Linked DNA regions of Homo sapiens. The protein of the gene in region 2 interacts with the protein of the main gene of each other region in a biochemical or structural test. Each region holds a gene or a part of one and is shown on either strand. Other genes may lie near its edges. The genes, in order: HNF4A, PHF2 and NR1H4.

Region 1 (7,133 bases), on a different chromosome or scaffold from region 2:
TGGTTGCTGGGAGCCTGAGGAGCCAAGAGTGGGAGCTTATCTCTCTGAATCTTTCTCAAGACCAAGCCCAGCCGCTCCCTATGGTCAGATTTCCAGGCCCTCCCTCTTCTCAGCCATTAGCCAGTCACCCTGGGGCCTGCCACTGAGTCATAAAGTGTGGCTACAGTTGTAAATGACTGTCGGGGAGCTGTGGGTGCAGGTGGGGCAGTGGTGGTGGGGCGGGGAGGGCCGAGGCTCACCTTCCTTCTTCATGCCAGCCCGGAAGCATTTCTTGAGCCTGCAGTAGCGGCACTGGTTCCTCTTGTCTTTGTCCACCACGCACTGCCGGCTAAATCTGGGGAGGGCTTTGGATGGTTGGATGGAGAAGACACAACTTCCTCCTCTTAGGACAGAACTAGGGCCCTGGCTATCCAGTTGACCCCCCAACCTCAGTGCTCTCATCTCTTCATCCCGGGAGTTCTCTCTTGAACCCACCAGGAGCTGGAAAGGTGCTATGAACTCTCTAAGAGCCCAGTCCTGTCCTGCTAAACATGGGAAAACTGAGGCTCAGAGAGGCAACATGTGGTCCTGGGTCGCTCTGCTGGTTGGTGTTAGAGCTGAGTTGGGAACCTTGACCTCTGGAGTACCAGAGCCCTGCTATTTCCACCACATCCTATAAAAGCTCAGAACCCATAGCAGGCTCCTGGTTATGGCTCAGAGTTAATACTCGGTTCACATAAGCCTCTCTCTGGAGGGGGATAGGAAGTAGAGGCAGTGCCACACCGTGGTGATGGGTGGGGCCCTGAATGTTAACCCTGGCTCTGCCAGTGATTCAAGCTGGTTGACCTTGGGCAAATGCCTAGCCCTCCAAGCCACAGCTTCCTCCTCTATAAAATGGGAATAACAACAGTAACCATCTCACAGGGGTGTTGACAGGTGAAATGAAGTCATGCGCCGATGGGGCACAGTCTTTGTACATGACAAGTGCTCGCAATTGACAGCTGCTATGATTTTATTATTGTCATTACCCAGAACAGGAGATGCTTTCGAAAGAGGGCTCTCCAAGGCCTTGGGAAGACTTTGGGGTTGGTGGAAGCCCCTGGGGTAGGTGGAACGGCCTGGGGTCAATCTCCTATTTGTCCCAAAAACAGCACCAGACTGGAAGACGGGCTCATCTACTGAGGCTTCAGGAGAGGCCCCATGGAATGGGAAAAACAACAATGGGCTCAAGGGGATGGGTAAATACACACAAAGACTTAGTATTGTGCCTGGCATATGATAAGAGCTCAATAAACGGCAGCCAGTAGCTTGATGATCAGTAAATGTGGTTCCTAGAATAGATGCTCTTCTTGGATTCACAAAGTCTTTTACAAAACCAGAAGAGCCTTGAAGGCCCTGAAGGGCAGCTGTCTCTGGGACCTACCCACTCAGGGAGAAGACAGACCTTGGGGCCATGAGCCCAAGTGTGCCCATTTCCCAGCTGAAGAAATTGAGGCTCCTCACCTGCAGGAGTACATGTGGTTCTTCCGCACGCTCCTCCGGAAGAAGCCCTTGCAGCCGTCACAGCTCGAGGCACCGTAGTGTTTGCCCGTGGCCCGGTCCCCGCAGATGGCACACAGGGCGCTGACACCCAGGCTGTTGGGCGCGTTGAGGTTGGTGCCTTCTGATGGGGACGTGTCTGCGCCAGGAGAGAAGGGAGTGAGGCTTCAGGAAGAACAGAATGTCAGGCATCTAAGGGAGCCTTGCGGGGATCTCTCCAGGGCTTCGGCCTCAGCCAGATCTGGGGGCTGTTCCCACTCCATCACCTCCCCACTCAGTGACCTCCTGACTTTTTGGAGCTTCAGTTTCACATCTGTAAACTGGGGCTGGTTGTGACTTCACAGACTTGTTTCTGAGGGTCTGCGTCTTCCTGTGGTGGAGGCCACGAGCCCCAGCTTTCTCTAGGAAGGCATGAAAACCTGGCCACCTTCTGGGGTGGGAGCCGGCCTCCTAACTCGCAAGGGGGCTGTGGAAGGGAGAAACATTCCCCTGCATTTTCCCCAGAACCAGGTCCTGTCCCTCAGTTCTTGCCAAGGGACCAGGGCTGGGTGGATCTCAGCTTGTGTGCCCAGGGGCCCCGCAAATTCTCTGAGGAACGAGAAAGACTTGGGCCGAGAACAGTCACACTCATGTGGCCTCCTAGGAGGGTCTGGACACATCTCCCATCCCTCCCATCCCACAGGCAAAAGCTACTGCATCTACACAAATGTGAGGGGGGCCGTAGAGGCAGGTGGAAAGAGGATCTTGGGCTGGGTGCCAGGAGTCCTGGGCACTACTGCTGATGCTGCCACTAACTCGCCTGTAAACTTGGGCAACTTCGCTTTCCCTGCTTCAATTTCTTCTGGGCCTCATTTTCTCTAACCATAAAAGGCAGCAGTTTGACTGGTCTGTTTCCAAATTTAAAAAATTTAAAAAATTTAAAAAATTTGTTTCCAAATTTAAAAAAATAGCAGCAGCTGAACCCCCTTTATTTGTCAGCAAATCTTTCAGCAAAGATAGACCCCTTTGAAGAAGATGACAAATGCAATGGGTCAGCCCCCGGGAAAATGCAAGCGTGTGTGCCACACAGTCCACACACACGCACACACGCTACGCACAAGCACACACACGCACCACACAGTCCACACACACGCACCACACAGTCCACACACAAGCACACACACGCACCACACAGTCCACACACACGCACACACCACACACAAGCACACACACACCTTACACACCACAGTCCACACACACCACACAGTTCCCACACACGCACACACACCACACACAAGCACACACACACCACACACACCACAGTTCACACACACCAAGCAGTCACACACACGCGCACACACACCACACAGTCACGCACACACACACCACAGTTCACACACACCACACAGTCCACACACCACACAGACACACGCACACACACACATATATACACACATGTGTACACATACAGTACACACACATGAACACAGAGTCCACACATAAGCACACACACGCTCCACACACATGCACACACATACACACAGTCCACACATGCACACAGTCCACATACATTGCACACACTTGCACATAGTCCACACACATGCATACATACAAACACATCAACACACACATATACAAATGTGTGCACACATACAGTCCACACATATACATACACATACACACAGTCCACACACACATGCTCACATGCACAAACATACACACATACACAGACACACACACACACACGTGTATTCATAGAAATCCTGAATCCAACCTTGGATTCCTCAGGGGCATCCAGTTAAGACCCAGAGAGGGCCATGCACTGTAGGTAACAGCACAGCCTCTGAAGTCCTTCTGCCCAGGGTTCAATTCCAGCTTGCCCACTTTTTAGCCGTGTGACATTGACTGTGTTCGTTTACTTCTCTATGCTTTTGTTTCCTCACTTGTAAAATGGGGAACGTGATATTCCCCTAGGTTCGTTATGGGGATTCGGTGAATTCTCATATGTGTATGTGAAGTGCTTGGCACATAGTAAGCACTATATCAGTGTTCATGAAATAAAAACTTTTCCACATAGGAAAACTCTCGGAGCAGAGGACTTCCAGGCTCCTTGCACAAGCAGACACTGCCGCATCTCATTTCTGCCATCGCAGACTCCCAGGTGTCCCCAGGAGTGCAGCCCCCTCCACTTGGTGAATTATTCCTGGAGATGGGGATAATTGTTAAGCCACGTGGGTGCCCTTTCTCCCTCGGCCTCTCCTCCCCCGACCCCCGGGGAGAGCTGACCCCCACAGCTCCTGGCCATTCAGCAGGAGGCTGGGGAAGTAGCTCCCACCTCTGAGGCAGGATGGGCTGGGGGCTGTCAGCTCTATCATCTCCCCTCTGAGGTCAGCCGAGCACCTCTATTCCACAGATGAGGACACTGAGGCTTAGAGAGGAAAAGTGGCTTCCTGGTGTCATCGCACTGCTTCCCGTGAAGCAGAGCCATGGGTTTATGGTCCAGGCTTGCTGGGCTACTCCAGCCAGTGCCACACATGTTGAGGTGTCTGCTGGGCCTCTAATGAACAAGGAGCCACCCAGGGCTGCTGCTCCATTGGGGTGGGGAGAGGACGGGGGAGAAATATCCTTGGAGCCTTTCAGACACCAGCCCAGGATGTACTCAAAACACTTCAGAGGACAACTTCACATAACCCCAATTCAGACCACTTCAAACTCCAGTGAGGAATGTGGGGACCCTGCTTACAGATGCTCAGAGCCCTTGAGATGACCCATGGTGGGGCCAGGCCCTTTACCAGGGCTAAGCACCCAGGCACCTCATCTTATTTATCCTCTGGCCAGCCCTGGGAGACAGACACTATTATTTATTCCCATTTTATAGGTGAGGAAACTGAGGCTCAGAGAGGAAATTGCCTTGCCACATTCACACAGGTTGGAAGGATCTATGCCGGATTTGAGCCCAGATCTTTCTGGTTCCAGAGCTGGAGGTGGTCTTGTCTTTGGGACTCCCAGTTCAGGGGCTTGGCCTCTGCCTCAGGAGCACACAGTTCCTGGGCTTGGAAAAAGTGATGGGGGCGGGGAGCAGCCCAGGGCAGGGCAGTGGTCCTCGTGGGGCCACACAACACTCCACCTAGTGCAGCAGCAGCTTGTTTGCTATCTCTGGTGTGTTTTTGCCTTGCGCTCCTGGCGTGGTCCTCAGACAGGCCTAAAAGCCGTCCAGCCAGCAGGCCTGGGGGAATGAAGCCTGTTTTGTAGAAGATACAGAAGCCAGGATAGGGGAGGTGACATGCCCAAGGTCACACGTGACTGGACGGCAGGGGCAGGTGAGCACCTGCTGAGCTGACAACAAGCAGTGCCCAGCAGCTGCCTCCTCACCCTAGCTGAGCTGACCACAAGATTCCAGACCTCAGCTGGAGCTGCAGCCTCATACTGGCTGAGTGGCTCCAAGACACAGAAGGAAGCAGGGTGGCAGGCTGACCTCAGCCAGCTGCCTGCCCCCTCTCCTCTGAGGCTGGCCTGGGACCGATGGGGCTCTTCCCTCCAGGAGGGGTTTCCGGGCCTCCTCTTTTCCCCTACCTCCCTGTGGAGAACTGTCCACCCCTCCAGATATGCTCCAGTGATGTCGGAGGGGATGCCTCAATCTGGCGAGACGCAGCGGCAACAAAATCTGCTCAGAGACAAACGGACATGTTGCTGATATGAATCTCACTTGGTGAGTGGCAACAACAGAGTCCTGCATTTGGGTCTGTGCAGTCGTGCACACCAGAGACCGCTGACCCCCGCCCGCAGCACAGGGAACTGCATATATACACAGCAGGTACAAATATGGGCACACGACAAAACGCCCATACAGGATAAAGATGCAGGAAGAACAGGGCACTCCAACAGGTCCGCATGCACAAACGCATGTGCTCTATGACCCGCACACACAGCACACATGTACAAACATCCACAGACACAAGTACACACACATACACACTTACATACATAAGCAAGATCAACACGGGCAACTCCTAAGACACAAACACAGACCCACTCAATGAATACAAAGGAAAATAGACCCAGAACTCACACACAGAGACAAATGAACACACATATGCAAATGGGTTCCTGAAGGCATCACCCCACCCATACAACCTACATGGAAACTCACTATCACACACGAACGCACACACAACACACACAGTGCTGAGTTGGCTTCGTAGTTAGCAAAACTTCCCTGAGAGCTCCATTTTCCCTAAGTGCCAATTTCATTTCCCTAGGAAAGTCCCAAAGACACCGAGAAATGCGGTTATGTCTCCAACCACCATCTCCAGGGATACAACATCCCTTGCCGTCTCTCTGAACCTAGGCCCAAGGGGTTCACGAAGGGGCCGTGCTGGGCTGAATCGCTGGAGCTGGGCACCAAGGGGGAGCTCACCATCACGTCACTGTGCCAAGCGCCAAGCAGAGCCACTGTGAGGCAGTGAGGACTGGAAGGGCCTGGGAGGAATAGCCGGGATCGACTTTTGCTGGAAATTGGCCCTTGCAGGCCTCCCTTCACCCAGAATGCCTGTGATCACTGTGCCTGGGCACATGGGCTTCACTTGGCAACACCTGTGCTGGCCTGTAGGACCAACCTACCATTTTGTATCATTCTCCTCCCACCCCAAAGTTGAGTGCCAAAGATCTGCTCCTGGACCCAGGCACACCTGCCCCCACTGGCACACCTGGGCACATCTGCCCCCACCTACCATTGCCCATCGTCAACACCTGCACATTCTCAAATTCCAGGGTGGTGTAGGCTGGGTCCAGTGCAGCACTGTAGTCGGCCATGTCCATGTCGACGAGGGTTTTGGAGAGTCGCATTCTCCCTGCCTCCACGCCGCGGCCACCTGCCCTACCCTGGGCGCCCACCCCGAAGGCCCCCGCCCTCCGCCCTCCCACTGCCTCCTCCCAGTGCCCTCTCTGCCTTCCTTTCAAACCGTCCTCTGGGAAGATCTGCTGGGAGTCTTGGCCTAGCCTCTGTGAAGGGGTGGAGGCTCTGCCGGGGAGGGGTGGGGGTTAATGGTTAATCGGTCCCCCGCCGGTGGATAGGCTGGGCGGGGCTGCAGGGATTTGGCTGTTTGTTGGTTTCTGGCTGACACCCGGGGTGCTAATTACAACTGCTGGGGCCCTAACTCACCGATGTTCAGTTATCAATTGTACAAGGCAGGCATCATGACTCACGGGCACTCATTTGACCCTTGACTCACCCACCCCTCCAAGCCATTGTCACCCCAAGTCAGGCATTCTAACTGATACTATCAGGCACTGACAGCCTACCTCCGAGATCCCCTAATTCAATAACTTCCCAAATCATTGACTTCTACCCTCAATGCTTTTGCAGAGATAAGGCTGCCCCATGGCCCACGATTTAGAAACCTAAATCCCAGGCCCCAGATGCCAATCTTCTGGATCCTTGTTCTGGGAGCTCCCTTCCAGTTCCCCCGCAGTTTCCCGGTTCCCCTGGGAGCAGAATGGACTGGAAGTTTGGGAGGGCCAGATTCACCTCCAATTCCCCGCTCCTGCTCCCTGTGATCCCACCCTGCCCCTCTCCGTCTCCCACAGCTCCCAGTGTTTCTGGCCCAGGCTGGCTCCATCTCGGATTTTCCCATCAC
Region 2 (7,133 bases):
CATTTATAAAGCTTCCCAGGTAGTTCTGGTGCACAGACAGGTGAGGGTCCTGGCTGCAGGGGGTTGTGGGCGGTGGGGCAGGGCCCTGTGAAGAGGCCAGGGCTGCATCCCATGGGAGGGCCTGGCAGGGAGGTCCCCAAGGAGCCCAGGACTTGGCCTTGGGGGTCCTTGCTGTCCAGCAGCACCAAGCCCCTGGTTCTGTGGGATGACAGTGGTCACCCCATTTCACCACTCTGTGAGCCTAGACAGGCTGATCACACACTGGGTGTCTCAGAAGATTCTTCTGGAAGGAGGGGAGCCAGTGTAGACAGGAGGAGGTGTGTGCATAGGCATGGGGCAGAGGAGGAGGATGCGGATGCGAGACAGGCTGGGCGCTATGGGAGGGGCCACCTGAAGCTGAGGGCAGCGGGGGTGCAGACAGGGCAAAGAGAAAGCCTGGGAGTCTGTGTGGAGCCTGCCAGAAGTGGGTGAACTTGGACTGAGCTGAGGTGCAGCTGTGTCTGTTCAGGTGCAGATGCAGCTGCAGGTCTATGTTCAGGTGGGTGCAGGTGTGGGGGTAGGTGCAGGTGTAGATGCAGGTGGGGGTGCAGGGTGGGGGTAGGTGCAGGTGTAGACGCAGGTGGGGGTGCATGTGTGGGGGTAGGTGTAGGTGCAGATGCAGGTGTGGATGTAGGTGTGGGAGTAGGTACAGGTGTAGATGCAGCTGTGGGTGTGGGAGTAGGCACAGGTGTAGTTGCAGGTGTGTGGGAGTAGGCACAGGTGTAGATGCAGGTGCGGGTGTGGGAGTAGGCACAGGTGCAGATGCAGATGTGGGTGTGGGAGTAGGGTCAGGTGTAGATGCAGATGTGGGTGTGGGAGTAGGGTCAGGTGTAGATGCAGGTGTGGGTGTGGATGTAGGTACAGGTGTAGATGCAGATGTGGGTGTGGATGTAGGTACAGGTGTAGATGCAGGTGGGTGTGGATGTAGGTACAGGTGTAGATGCAGATGTGGGTGTGGGAGTAGGTACAGGTGTAGATGCAGGTGTGGGTGTGGATGTAGGTACAGGTGTAGATGCAGATGTGGGTGTGGGAGTAGGGTCAGGTGTAGATGCAGATGTGGGTGTGGGAGTAGGGTCAGGTGTAGATGCAGGTGTGGGTGTGGATGTAGGTACAGGTGTAGATGCAGTTGTGGGTGTGGATGTAGGTACAGGTGTAGATGCAGGTGTGGGTGTGGATGTAGGTACAGGTGTAGATGCAGGTGTGGGTGTGGATGTAGGTACAGGTGTAGATGCAGATGTGGGTGTGGATGTAGGTACAGGTGTAGATGCAGGTGTGGGTGTGGATGTAGGTACAGGTGTAGATGCAGATGTGGGTGTGGGAGTAGGCACAGGTGTAGATGCAGGTGTGGGTGTGGATGTAGGTACAGGTGTAGATGCAGATGTGGGTGTGGGAGTAGGGTCAGGTGTAGATGCAGATGTGGGTGTGGGAGTAGGGTCAGGTGTAGATGCAGATGTGGGTGTGGGAGTAGGGTCAGGTGTAGATGCAGATGTGGGTGTGGGAGTAGGCACAGGTGTAGATGCAGGTGTGGGTGTGGGAGTAGGTACAGGTGTAGATGCAGGTGTGGGTGTGGATGTAGGTACAGGTGTAGATGCAGGTGTGGGTGCGGATGTAGGTACAGGTGTAGATGCAGGTGTGGGTGTGGATGTAGGTACAGGTGTAGATGCAGATGTGGGTGTGGGAGTAGGCACAGGTGTAGATGCAGGTGTGGGTGTGGATGTAGGTACAGGTGTAGATGCAGGTGTGGGTGTGGATGTAGGTACAGGTGTAGATGCAGGTGTGGGTGTGGATGTAGGTACAGGTGTAGATGCAGATGTGGGTGTGGGAGTAGGGTCAGGTGTAGATGCAGGTGTGAGTGTGGGAGTAGGCACAGGTGCAGGTGCAGGTGTGGGTGTGGGAGTAGGCACAGGTGCAGGTGCAGGTGTGGGTGTGGGAGTAGGCACAGGTGTGAGTGTGGGAGTAGGCACAGGTGTACATGCAGGTATGGGTGTAGGTACAGGTGCAGATGCAGGTGTGGGGGTAGGTATAGGTGTAGATGCAGGTATGGGTGTAGGTGTAGGCACCAGTGTAGATGGAGGTGTGGGTATGGGTGTAGGCACAGGTGTAGATGCAGGTGCGGGGGTGGAGGTAGGTACAGGTGTAGATGCAGGTGTGGTTGGAGGTACAGGTGTAGATGCAGGTATGGGTATAGGAGTAGGTACAGGTGTAGATGCAGGTATGGGTATAGGAGTAGGTACAGGTGTAGATGCAGGTATGGGTATAGGAGTAGGTACAGGTGTAGATGCATGTATGGGTGTAGGTGTAGGAACAGGTGTAGATGCAGGTGCAGGGGTGGAGGTAGGTACAGGTGTAGATGCAGGTGTGGTTGGAGGTACAGGTGTAGATGCAGGTGCAGGTGTGAGGGTAGGTACAGGTGTAGATGCACGTATGGGTATAGGAGTAGGTGCAGGTGTAGATGCATGTATGGGTGTAGGTGCAGATGCAGGTGTGGGTAAAGGTGGGGGTGTGGAGAGAAGTTGCAGGTCACTGGGGAAAGCGTGTGCCATGGGAGGGAGTGGGCTACGCTGCCCCATCTCAGGGTGACACATGGGAAGGTTCCCTACAAAGTGGGGTAAGGAATGCCCAGGGCTAGTTCTGTAGTTGGGAGAGAGGCACAGGGTGGACCGAGGGGGTACACAGAGTGGCTGGGGTGCAGGAGGAAGGTCACTGAGTCGGCTTGCTGGCTTTAAGGTGTGAGAGACCAGTGCGTGACCATATGAGGGTCTGGACCCTCCTTCCCATCTGCTGTCTTCCGTCTCCTCTCCATGCCCATCTCTGTCTCCAGGCCTCCAGCCCTCCCTGTGGCATATGGGTGGATGAGCAGAGCTGGATGAGGGGAGTGGCTGGCCTCTTCCAAGGGAGAAGTCATCAGCTCACTGCCACCCTCTCTGCTCCACGCCCTCTGCCTGCCACCTGGGCCAGGAGTTTGTGCAGGAGTTTGTGCAGGCCATAGGCTGTTGTTTAAGTGCCTGGGCTGCAGGCCAAGAGCACTGGGCTGAGTGCCTGTCTCTCTGTGCCCCTAGCCAGCCCCCGGCCTCCCCCAGCACACAGGAAGCCATTCAGGGAATGCTGTCCATGGCCAACCTGCAGGCCTCCGACTCCTGCCTGCAGACCACGTGGGGAGCTGGCCAGGCCAAGGGGAGCTCGCTGGCTGCCCATGGTGCCCGGAAGAATGGGGGTGGCAGTGGCAAGAGTGCAGGCAAACGACTGCTGAAGAGGGCTGCCAAGAACAGTGTCGACCTGGACGACTACGAGGAAGAGCAGGACCACCTGGATGCCTGCTTCAAGGACTCAGACTACGGTGAGTGTCACTCCTGCGTGGGGCAGGGCCCATGCTCAGCCCTAGAAGGCCTGGCTGAGAATGGAGACAGTAGCATAAACATGCAGCTCTCCAAGTTACAGCAGGCCTCAGCTCAGCAAAACCCTCGGCCTCTGACTGCTGTCCCCGGAGACCCTCCTGTGAGCGAGACTGGCCGGGGCCCACATCTGGTGGACAGGCTTGGGCTTCGTGGTGGGGCCTACTCTAGTTTGACAAACAGAATGACAGCAAAGTGAACTCCTGTTTTCTGGGCTCTGGAGGTGTGTGGCACCGGGCGCCATCTTGCTTCCTCCTGAACCTTGGGTCCTGGGCATTCCTCGACAGGCCCCGGAGGTTGAAGGACCACAACCTGCAGTGAGTGTAGGGTGGCACTTGGCTTTTGAGGGTCACAGGGTCACCGCCTCACCGTGTTGGGGCAGCTCCCCACCAGCCACAGGTCATGCCCTACAGTGTCCCCTCCACCTAGACCCGCCAGGCAGGGTGGGGGCTGTCAGAGCCCACCCTCCATGGACGTTAGACGTTTTCCCTTTTCATAGCAACGGAAGGAGTTGTGAGGAGTTTTCACCAAACAGAACCTTTCCTGGAGCCTCAAAGTGTTTCTCTTGCAGGAACTGAGATGCCCTAGTTTGATTATGGGGTCCCATCCTTCCCTGGTTCCCCACTCTCTGCTGTAGCTTCCTCCAGGTGGGGCCTCTGGGGATCTCAAGCTCCATGAACAGATGTACGGAGGGCAGCCCTTAGAGGCCAGGGGCTTGCAGGCACTGGGGCTAGGCTGCACAGATGAGGCTGGGCAGGTAGATGCAGGTGCCTTCTTGTCTGGAGAGTCCCTGCCCCTCTGGATAATCTCTGGGGCCTGTGCCCATGCCTGGGGTGTCCTCACCATGGGCAGCTTCCATCACAGCTGACAGTGACACAGCGTGGCAGGCCTTAGTGTAGGCCCTGGGGTTGCTGGCGAGGAAGGTCTGCAGCCACCTGTACCCCCCCGCCCTCCTCCGTGGACCTGCCCTGCACTCAGCGGGCCACGCCTTCCCTCTGCCTCCCTCTAGTTTACCCCTCACTGGAGTCAGATGAAGACAACCCCATCTTTAAGTCCCGGTCGAAGAAAAGGAAAGGCTCAGACGACGCTCCCTACAGCCCAACAGGTAGTGCTGGGACAGGGGTAGGGGGTCCACCTGACACCCAGTGTGGAAGCTGTGACTTTGTCTGTGGTCCCTCCAGCCCCTGAGAATGTGGGCTCAGCTCTGCACCTGTCCTATCCTGAGGGCTGGGCAGCCCGTCCCGCTGGGGTTGGTCAGCTGCTTGCAGGAGTGCCGTGGGCTTCACTTCTGCTTTGCTTCTGGGGGCCTGGGAGCCCAGATGTGCTTCTACACAGCCCCAACTCAAAAGCCCTCACTCCTCTGGCTGGCTCCTCTCTGGTTTCTTCCTCAATGGGCAGCTCTGTGAGGGTCACCTTTGTACCGGAGGCACCCACTTGATGGTGGCTGAGGGACACCTGCTGGGGCAGCCAGTGGGGTGAGGCCTTGTCCACCTTCCACATTACCCTCACCCGCCTGCCCAGACTCTGATGTTGCTGGGCCTCCTGGGCTCTGCCCCATGCAAACCCCACTGTGGCATCTTCCCCCTTGGGTGGGGCAGCTGACCCTGCCCTATTGTGAGGCGGCTTCACAGCCAGGAATCCCTGTGCTTAGGCCTGCCTGGCCAGGGGGACAGGCTGGGGTGGGGGCAGGGTAGCCCCAAACCAGGAGGGGTGGACAGGCTGTGGCCTACAGCTTGAGGGGGCTGGCCCTTCTTTTCCACAGCAAGGGTCGGCCCATCGGTGCCAAGACAGGACAGGCCTGTGCGTGAGGGTACACGGGTGGCTTCCATCGAGACCGGGCTGGCGGCTGCTGCAGCTAAGTTGTCCCAGCAGGTGAGGAGGGGCGAGAAGGACACACGGCAGCCAGGTCCCTGCTACCCCCACCTGGTGGGCTCAGGTTCCCCAAGGCACCTGTTTCTCCACCCCATACACAGACCCACTGAGCCAGGGGTGGTCACAGGCTTGGGGACATTTGATTAGAGAGTGCCCTATTCCTCCAGGCCCTAAATTCCCCGTGTGGGGTCCGGGGGAGCTAGGAATTGACGACTGGGGCCCTGACACTGGACAGCCCTATTCGTGCCAAGGCTGGGCTACTCTCTGGTACAACAGCAGCTTGGAGGGAGCTCCCCTTCCCCTCCCCCCATCATGTGGGTGTTTTTGAGTTGTCCTCAGTTGGGAAATGAGGTGTTCTGTCTCTACATGCTCCTAAAAATCTCATCTCCCACCTTTAGCTCCTCCCAGCTCAGAAATGGAGGGTCCTAGAGCCTCACATACCCTCCCAACCAGGCCCAACCTCATCTGGGCACACAAGGAAGTTATTAGGATCAAAGTGAATATTCTTCCAGAACTGGGAGATGTATATGGCCACTGAGTGGGGTGATGGGGTAGGAGTGCCATCCTACAGGCTCAACTGCTAGGTTAACTCACACTGACAGGGAGGCCAGGCAGCTGCTGTGGGTGCTGGCGCCCTGTCCGTGTGCATGCTGTGCCCCTGGCGGCCCAGAGTCAGGCCTCAGGCCCCTGCTGCCCAGCCCTGCTGTGCTCAAGGGCCCCTGGCAAGGCCATGCCGGGAGCTCCCTGCTCTGTTGGCCCAAGTGGGCTGTGCGTCTGAGGCTGCCCTGCATGTTTTGTTCAAAGGAGGAGCAGAAAAGCAAGAAAAAAAAGAGTGCCAAGAGGAAGCTGACTCCTAACACCACCTCCCCTTCCACCTCCACCTCCATCTCTGCCGGCACCACCTCCACCTCCACCACGCCAGCCTCTACCACCCCGGCCTCCACCACCCCGGCCTCCACCAGCACGGCCAGCAGCCAGGCCTCGCAGGAGGGCAGCTCGCCAGAGCCCCCGCCTGAGTCGCATAGCAGCAGCCTGGCGGACCATGAGTACACAGCCGCTGGCACCTTCACCGGGGCCCAGGCTGGCCGCACCTCCCAGCCCATGGCCCCTGGGGTCTTTCTCACACAGAGGCGGCCCTCCGCATCGTCTCCAAACAACAACACCGCTGCCAAAGGTACTGTGCCTGCTGGAGGGAGCCTGCAGCCCCCCTGCCCTGCCTGCCCCCATGGGCAGCCCCAGACATGCAGACTCGGCCCATGGTAGAGGGCAGCACATTGGGAGGGCTCCTGGGCCTTGGGTGGCAGGGTGCTGTGGTCCAAGTTGGTTGCATCTTTGTGTGAGCGTATCCCACAGTACAGGACGTGTGCTTTCATCCTTCTGCTCAGTGGGCGTGCTCAGCCCCTGATCTGCCTGCACCCCTGCACCCCAGCCGTGGGGCCGGCCAGCTGTGGGGACTGAGTGATGCAGCACGGGGTGCTGGCAGTGGCTCCTGGCCTTGTTACTGGGGGTGGTGCCCAGGCATCCTCATGTCCTCCTCATAATGCCATCCCCAAGCCCATGTCCATCCTACCTGCCAGGGCCCCTTGAGGACACGGCCTCTGAGGCGGAGGCTTTGCCAGTGATCCCAGACTCCTGAAGGGTGCTGAGCTCGGAGCTGGGGCTTCATAGGCCCATTTTACAGATGGGGGACTGCAGGCTGCCCCTTAGTGTCAGCGGGACCCTCCCCCCCACCGGCATGCCACGCCCCTTGCCATCTAGCTTACCTTCCCTTTTTGTGTCCCCTCCCCGACTCCCCTAGGAAAACGTACGAAAAAGGGCATGGCGACCGCC
Region 3 (7,133 bases), on a different chromosome or scaffold from region 2:
AAGTGATTCTCCTGCCTCAGCCTCCCGAGTAGTTGGGATTACAGGCATGCACCACCACACCCAGCTAATTTTTGTATTTTCAGTAGAGACAGGGTTTCACCATGTTGGCCAGACTGGTCTCAAACTCCTGACCTCAAGTGATCCACCCGCCTTGGCCTCCCAAAGTGCTGGGATTACAGGCGTGAGCCACCGCGCCTGACCTGGAAATATATTCTTAAGGAAAAAGAGAAAAGAGCTCTAGGAAAAGAAAAAACGTTTTATTTTTCCAAGTATTTGGTCTTCAAGCAGCACTCAAACTGAAGTTCTTTCCAGGACAGAAATACAGATTTAGAATAAATAGATACTTCCGAAAATCCAGAGACACGTCAAGGACAACATATGGCCAACAAGGATGGCTGCGAGCCAATATGACCATTGGACCACATCATTCTGAAGACAGTGCTCTATAAGAACCAAACAATTTTTATTACTATCTTAGTAACCACTACATAGATTTTTAGTGATAGATTAAAATAAAATTTAATATTTAAATTAACATTTTAATTAAATTTTTAATAATAGCATTCTCTGGATCATATCTATGATCAACTTATACTGATATTCAAACTAATCAACCTCAGTTTTGTTTGTGCCCATTAGCAGCAAGAAATATGACTTGTTTGTCAAGAACTATGACAGGCCAGGCACAGTGGCTCATGCCTGTAATCCCAGCACTTTGGGAGGCTGAGGTGGGTGGATCACCTGAGGTCAGGGATTTGAGACCAGCCTGGCCAACATGGTGAAACTCCATCTCTACTAAAAATACAAAAATTAGCTGGGCACGGTGGCACACGCCTGTAGTCCCAGCTACTTGGGAGGCTGAGGCAGAAGAATTGCTTGAACCCAGGAAGCAGAGGTTGCAGTGAGCCGAGATTGCGCCACTACACTCCAGTCTTGTGACAGAGTGACACTCTGTCTCAAATAAATAAATAAATAATAAAATACCTGCATCAACTAGATATCCACAGCTTTCAAAGCGTCTCTGCTCTCTGGAGCTTACACAATGGTGCCTAAACAACAGCTGACCTTTATTTCCAACTAGATGTAGAAGAAGCACCTGGAGTTGAGGCTTCCAGGACCAGGAACCTGGAAGTGAATGTCTTCTTAAATTTTGCACCCTCAGTGCCTCACTTGCCTAGCTCTAGGCCTAGCCCTGCTTCTCAACTCCTTGATTAGCACAAACTCCAGGAGACGTTCATAGCCCTGGGTACTTCTTCTTTGCAGTGGTGTTACCATTGTAATTCAACCTTTGTTTTTGTGGATTTGGTTTTCTGTGTCTCCCATTAAACCAGCAGCTCTAGGAGAGATTACATTGGATCTCCAATGCCTTGCACAATGCCAGCCAGGTACATCTTAGATGCACAATAAATTCTTGTTAATTGAGTAAATGAACAAATGGTTGCATGAATAAATAAAGTAACTAATACATAAATGAGTGAATGAATAATATACCTTACTAGATAACCACCTTTAGAATCAGTCTTGCTTAGGCCATAGGACAGAAATTAGTGAATAGAGGCATACAACACAATACACACAAGAGCCGAAGAAGGATTTTTTTTTTGTCACATAAAGAAATCTAACAACTAAGTCTGCTTCCCCACAATGTAGACTAATTAGTGAATGGTAACCATTTTTATTGGAAATCTCTTAAGCATAGGCTTTCCAGTCTCCCCATGGGAACCATTTTATACATGAGTTGACCACCCCAGGAAATTGTTTTGTTTTGTTTCAGGGTTTTTGTTGTTTGTTTGTTTGTTTTGAGACAGGGTCTCTCTCTTTCACCTGGGCTGGAATGCAGTGGTGCGATCTTAGCTCGCTGCAGTCTTGACCTCCCAGGCTCAAGCAATCCTCACACCTCAGCCTCCCAAGTAGCTGGGACTACAGGCATGCACCACTTGCCCAGCTAATTTTATTTATTTATTTATTTATTTTTATTTTTATTTTTTTGAGATGGAGTCTCGCTCTGTCACCCAGGCTGGAGTGCAGTGGTGCCATCTCGGCTCACTGCAAGCTCCGCCTCCTGGGTTCACACCATTCTCCTGCCTCAGCCTCCCGAGTAGCTGGGACTACAGGCACCCGCCACCATGCCCAGCTAATTTTTTGTATTTTTAGTAGAGATGGGGTTTCACCGTGTTAGCCAGGATGGTCTCGATCTCCTGACCTCATGATCTGCCAGCTTCGGCCTCCCAAAGTGCTGGGATTCAGGCATGAGCCACCGTGCCCAGCCCCAGCTAATTTTTTTAATTTTTTGTAGAGACAGGATTTCACCATGTTGCCCAGGCTGGTCTAGAACTCCTGAGCTCAAGCAATCTGCCCACCTCAGCCTCCCAAAGTGCTGGGATTACAGGAGTGAGCCACCATGCTGGGCCGGAAATAGTTTTAATTAATCTCGCGAATTTCCCGTTGTTAATTCTCTTCCATCAGAACTACCAGGAATAGTTTTGTTGTTGTGGTTGTTTGGTCTTCTTAATGTTCACTCTTCATAATCAGGAAAGTTTGTTTTTTCTTTTTTCGCATTATGTACATTAGTCAAAATGGTCAAGAAGCTATTTGTTGAATGCTTTCTCCGTGACTAACTTGTCATTTTTTTTTTCAAATACTTAATTGGATCTTTGAAATATTATGCCTCTTACTCATGGAAATTGTTTGCAAAGATGGCCACCACAATTGCTTCCTTTCCACACGCTCTTACAATGTGAGTTTGCCACACCTCTCATCAATGCACAAAGTCTGTTTCGCTAGCCCTTGGACCTGAGCTGGTCTAATAAATTCGTTGACCAACAGAATGTGGTGGAAGTGAGGTTGGGGACTTCTAAGCCAGGCTTTAAGAGACCTTGTAGCTTCTGTTTTCCATATCTAAGAAAGAATGCTGCCCTGAGATTGCCATACTGTTTGCAGATATCTCAGATTTAAAAATCTCATGGAGAAAGAAGTCCAGCTCTTCCAACTATCCCAGCTGACGGCCACATCAAGACCCCAGACATGAGTGAGGCCATCTCAGTCCTTTCATTCCAGTTGAACTCACATCTGAATGAGCAACATGAGTGAACCCAGGCATAACCAGCAGAGAAGCTGCTCAGCCGCCCCACAGAACTATGAGAATTAATGGATCATTCCTGTTTTATGCCACTAAGCTTTGGGATGGTTGTTACAAAGACATAAATGACTGGTATAGAAATCAGTACCTGGAAGTGAGATGCTGTCTAAAAAAACCGCTAACATATATGGCCTGGGCTTTGGGATTGGGGGATGATCTGAGGCTAGAAGGGCAGTGAGGAGACTGGTTAGTGGAAACTGGAAGAACAATAAGAAAATTCCCATAGGAGGTGGGAAGATGGGGGTCCTGTTTATAATCATGAAACAATCAGTAACACTGTCTCCTGTGGTAACTTGGAAGATAGAAATGTTTCTAAACTTATAGATCTAAGATTTCCCACTAGTACGGTGGATGTGTCAGTTGGTCTCTTTAGCTATGTGTGATAAGGTACTTACTCTTTAAAAACGGCATCTCAACATCAATTTCCCATTCATTCACTCATTTATTTTGTCAGTGCACATTTATTGACAGACACTAGACATAGTAAAAAATAATGATTTTTCAGAAAGCTTAGTGGAAAAGTCAGGCAAGAAAAACCCAATGGTAGTAGTGTGAGGATTGCTACAACAGAGCTAAGCACAGGTGCCATCAGGAGCACAAGCAGGGACATTCATTCATCCAATATTCATTAATTCTCTACTACATACCAAGTTTCGGTCTAGGTTTTAGAAATACAGTGGTAAGACAAAGAGCTTACATTCTAGAGGGATAAGTGAATAATACACAAGTCAACAAATAATAGGATTTCTGATGAGGATAATAAGAAAGTAAAAGAGAAGTATAGAGTGTTGTAGTTGAACACAGTTTTGGAGAGGGCAATCAGAGAAGAGCTCTCTGAAAAGTGGACATTCGAACTGAGATGTGAAGGACAAGAATGAGTAAGTCATACAAAGGGAAAATAAGTTCAGGCAGAGTGATCAGCAAAAGCAAAGGGCCTGGGCTTGGAGTGTTGGAAGAACAACACAAGCCCAGTGAGGCTGGAAATGAGTGAGCCAAGGAGGGGCTATAGGAAATGAGGTCTGAGAGTAGGCAGCTCTTGTATGGCCTGTTGGCCATGGTAAGGAGTTTGGATTTTCTTCTAAATGGAAGTAATTGATGAGTTTTAAACAAGGGTATAGTGAGGAGAATGAGGGAAATCTTTCTGAGCGTGGAGGGTTGATTCTTGAACTTAGTCTTGAAGGAATAGGCATTAGGCTAGGAAAATGACACGCAACAGGGATGGCTATAGGAAGGGAAAATAGCATGCTGTGTTCTGAGCAACCCTAAATAGTTGTCTATGCTGTAGCTAGTGGACTCAGCTCAAATCAGTGGAAGAAGGATGACCTATTCAAGAAATTGTGGCAAGAAAATTGCCTATGCTTTGAGGGTAAAAATAAAGACATCTTTATGAATCATTCTTGGAAAATACATCTCAGATGGATTAAAGACTGAAAATTATAAAATTATTGGGAGAAAATATATTTATGATCTTTATGGATTTGGGGATTGAGAAGGACTTTATTAAATAAGAAGTAAATAGGAAAAGAATACATTTGAGAACGTTGAAATGTAAGACAGAGGTTAAGGCATCACAAACAAAGCTAAATATATAAAAATGGATAAAAATATTTACAACATAAATAACACCAAAAATATTAGTACAAACAATATATAAACGATTCCTATAAATAAAAACAGAAAGGATAAACAACCCAAGAGAGAAATTGGCAAAGGATACAAAAAGGAAATTCACCAAAGTGGAAACACAAGTGGCCAGTAAACACAGAAAATATCTGAAACTAATAATAATTAGGAAAATGGATATTACTATAACTAAATACCATTTTCACCTATGAGATTATCAAAAAATTTTAACTTTGATAATATTCAAAGTGTATGAAAATATGCATTCTCACATATTGCTAGTGGGGGCATAGGTTTTAGTCTTTTTGGAGGGCTCTTTAGCAGTGTATCTTAAAATAAAGTGCAATTTTAATTCCTAGGTATCTTTCCTGGAGAAATCTTTGCTGGTATGCACCAGGATGTTCATTGTAGCATTGCCTCTAATGCAGAAAGAGGGCAAACCACCTAAAAAACCATCAACAGTGGAATGGCTAAATGAACTGTGCTCTATAGTATCAACTATTAGGAAGTGGTTAAACAAGATTAAAGTGTTTTGATATGTATTAACATTGAAACAGTGAAGTAGAGGAGAATAGGGCTAGGGGAAGGTCAAAAAATATTTTAGACTTATTCATAATGTTGAAACTTTTAACACAATGACTACATTAAGATATGTCAGTCTCCTAGGGTATCATTTCCTGTCCTCAACTTTGCCAATTATATAATCAGATGCTATAAGCAGGTATATTTAGATTCTCCAGAAAAGAAGGGTTTGCTTCATTTTCTTAAAACAATTTTAGGATTGTGCAGCATTTTTGAGCTTCAACAAAAATTATAAACCTCTCTCTAGGAAAGACATACACAAAATACAGATATTTTTCTAAATTAATAAATGTTTAGGAGAAATTTTATGTTCACTATAAAATTGAACAAAATGTATGGAGAGCCTCCATATACGTCTTCTCCCCCACCCCCCACACACATGCACAGCCTCCTTTACTTTCAACAACCAGCACCAGAGTGGCACATTTTTTTACAATCGATGAACCTATGCTGACACATCTTTATCAGCGAAGGACTATAGTTTACATTAGGGCTCAATCTTGGTGTTGTGTATTCTATGGGTCTTGACAAGTGTATAATAACATGTACCCACCATTGGTAATATCATATAGAATGAATTCACTGCCCTAAAAATTCTCTGTAAAATGCATAGATTTTTAAATGTAGTCTTAAGTGACCCTGGCCCCCTGAAGCCCAGCTATAGCCTCAGATTCAGAGTCGGGACTCCAGGAGAGCAAGAATCTTTTACATGACCACTTTGGAATGACATTTCTTTGTCCTGTCTCTGCCCTGCAAATTCTGGATGGCAACCAGCTTTTGCTCCTTAAGCCCCAGGCTGGTATCAACTTGTCGTCTACACTGGCAGCTTCCATAACTCTCTAGGACATGGCAGCAAATAGCTCTCTGCTTAGGAACAGTCACAGCCCAGAGCAGTGTTTTTGTTTTCTCTAATCAGCAACATCCCACAGCAGGACTATCTTCTCCATGCACAACTACATTATTTACCATGTTTTCCAGATAACTGTGTTAAATATATCTACAGGACTTGAAAATGCAAAGCCATACCATTTCTCCTTTTCTTTACATTAATAACATTAATTAAAGTGTAATAGACCCAGGTTGTCTCAGGTTCATTGAGACCTGGGAAAGGTCATCTAAATCTCTTTAAAATGGGAAGCAAAATCTCAAAGTTTTGTTAGGATTTTATATTAAAAAATGAAAATTAATAAAAATTTATTTTATATTTATACTTATTTATTTTAATCACCAGAACCCTGTTATATTTCTTAATCCTAACAAAGAATAAATCTTATTTTTTTTCCTGTGCAATATTTGCAATTTTACTTTGCAATCAAGTTGCATTATATTAGTGTCATCTTATCACCAATTTACAAAGCAGAGAGAGTAGGAATAGTAGATGTTCTTTTATGGCCAAAATTGGAAATGGGCAAACTGAGGGAGAAAATAATTCACTGTGAAGAGCAAAGGGGTTAGGGGATTCCAGAGCAGGGTGAGAGAAGGGAGAGAAAAGACAGAAGGATGAATATTTGTATGTAATAATGATTTTTGCCTCCTCATACAGCTTGGTGACTAAGGACACTCGTATGGTGATGCCTTTTAGCTACATCTTCACTGGTAGAAACTACTGTGACAATAAAAAAATACCTGGGAGGAAAATTGTTCCTATTTCTTATTTTTTAAAAAAAATTTTGAGGTGGTGTCTCTCTATGTTACCCAGGCTAGAGTATAGTGGCATTATCATAGCTCACTGCAGCCTTGAACTCCTGAGCTCAAGCAATCCTTCCACCTCAGCCGCCCGAGCTGCTGG

What was found.
Region 1: the proteins of PHF2 (region 2) and HNF4A form a complex in vitro, tested with the Homo sapiens proteins (one study listed by IntAct).
Region 3: the proteins of PHF2 (region 2) and NR1H4 form a complex in vitro, tested with the Homo sapiens proteins (one study listed by IntAct).

Annotation. Positions count from the first base shown.
Region 1 is NC_000020.11:44,400,582-44,407,714, reverse strand, and holds part of HNF4A (hepatocyte nuclear factor 4-alpha), read right to left. Parts: exon of another isoform or gene 6,343-7,133; coding exon of another isoform or gene 6,228-6,342; intron 5,162-6,227; coding exon of another isoform or gene 5,071-5,161; intron 1,658-5,070; coding exon 1,483-1,657; intron 335-1,482; coding exon 240-334; intron 1-239. UniProt on the Homo sapiens protein: Transcriptional regulator which controls the expression of hepatic genes during the transition of endodermal cells to hepatic progenitor cells, facilitating the recruitment of RNA pol II to the promoters of target genes. Activates the transcription of CYP2C38.
Region 2 is NC_000009.12:93,670,487-93,677,619, forward strand, and holds part of PHF2 (lysine-specific demethylase PHF2), read left to right. Parts: exon of another isoform or gene 1-572; coding exon of another isoform or gene 573-933; intron 934-1,003; coding exon of another isoform or gene 1,004-2,619; exon of another isoform or gene 2,620-3,092; intron 3,093-3,098; coding exon 3,099-3,376; intron 3,377-4,440; coding exon 4,441-4,536; intron 4,537-5,193; coding exon 5,194-5,303; intron 5,304-6,107; coding exon 6,108-6,477; intron 6,478-7,101; coding exon 7,102-7,133. Other genes in the region: fibroin heavy chain-like, read left to right, coding at 573-933, 1,004-2,619. UniProt on the Homo sapiens protein: Lysine demethylase that demethylates both histones and non-histone proteins. Enzymatically inactive by itself, and becomes active following phosphorylation by PKA: forms a complex with ARID5B and mediates demethylation of methylated ARID5B.
Region 3 is NC_000012.12:100,476,770-100,483,902, reverse strand, and holds part of NR1H4 (bile acid receptor), read right to left. Parts: intron 1-7,133. UniProt on the Homo sapiens protein: Ligand-activated transcription factor. Receptor for bile acids (BAs) such as chenodeoxycholic acid (CDCA), lithocholic acid, deoxycholic acid (DCA) and allocholic acid (ACA).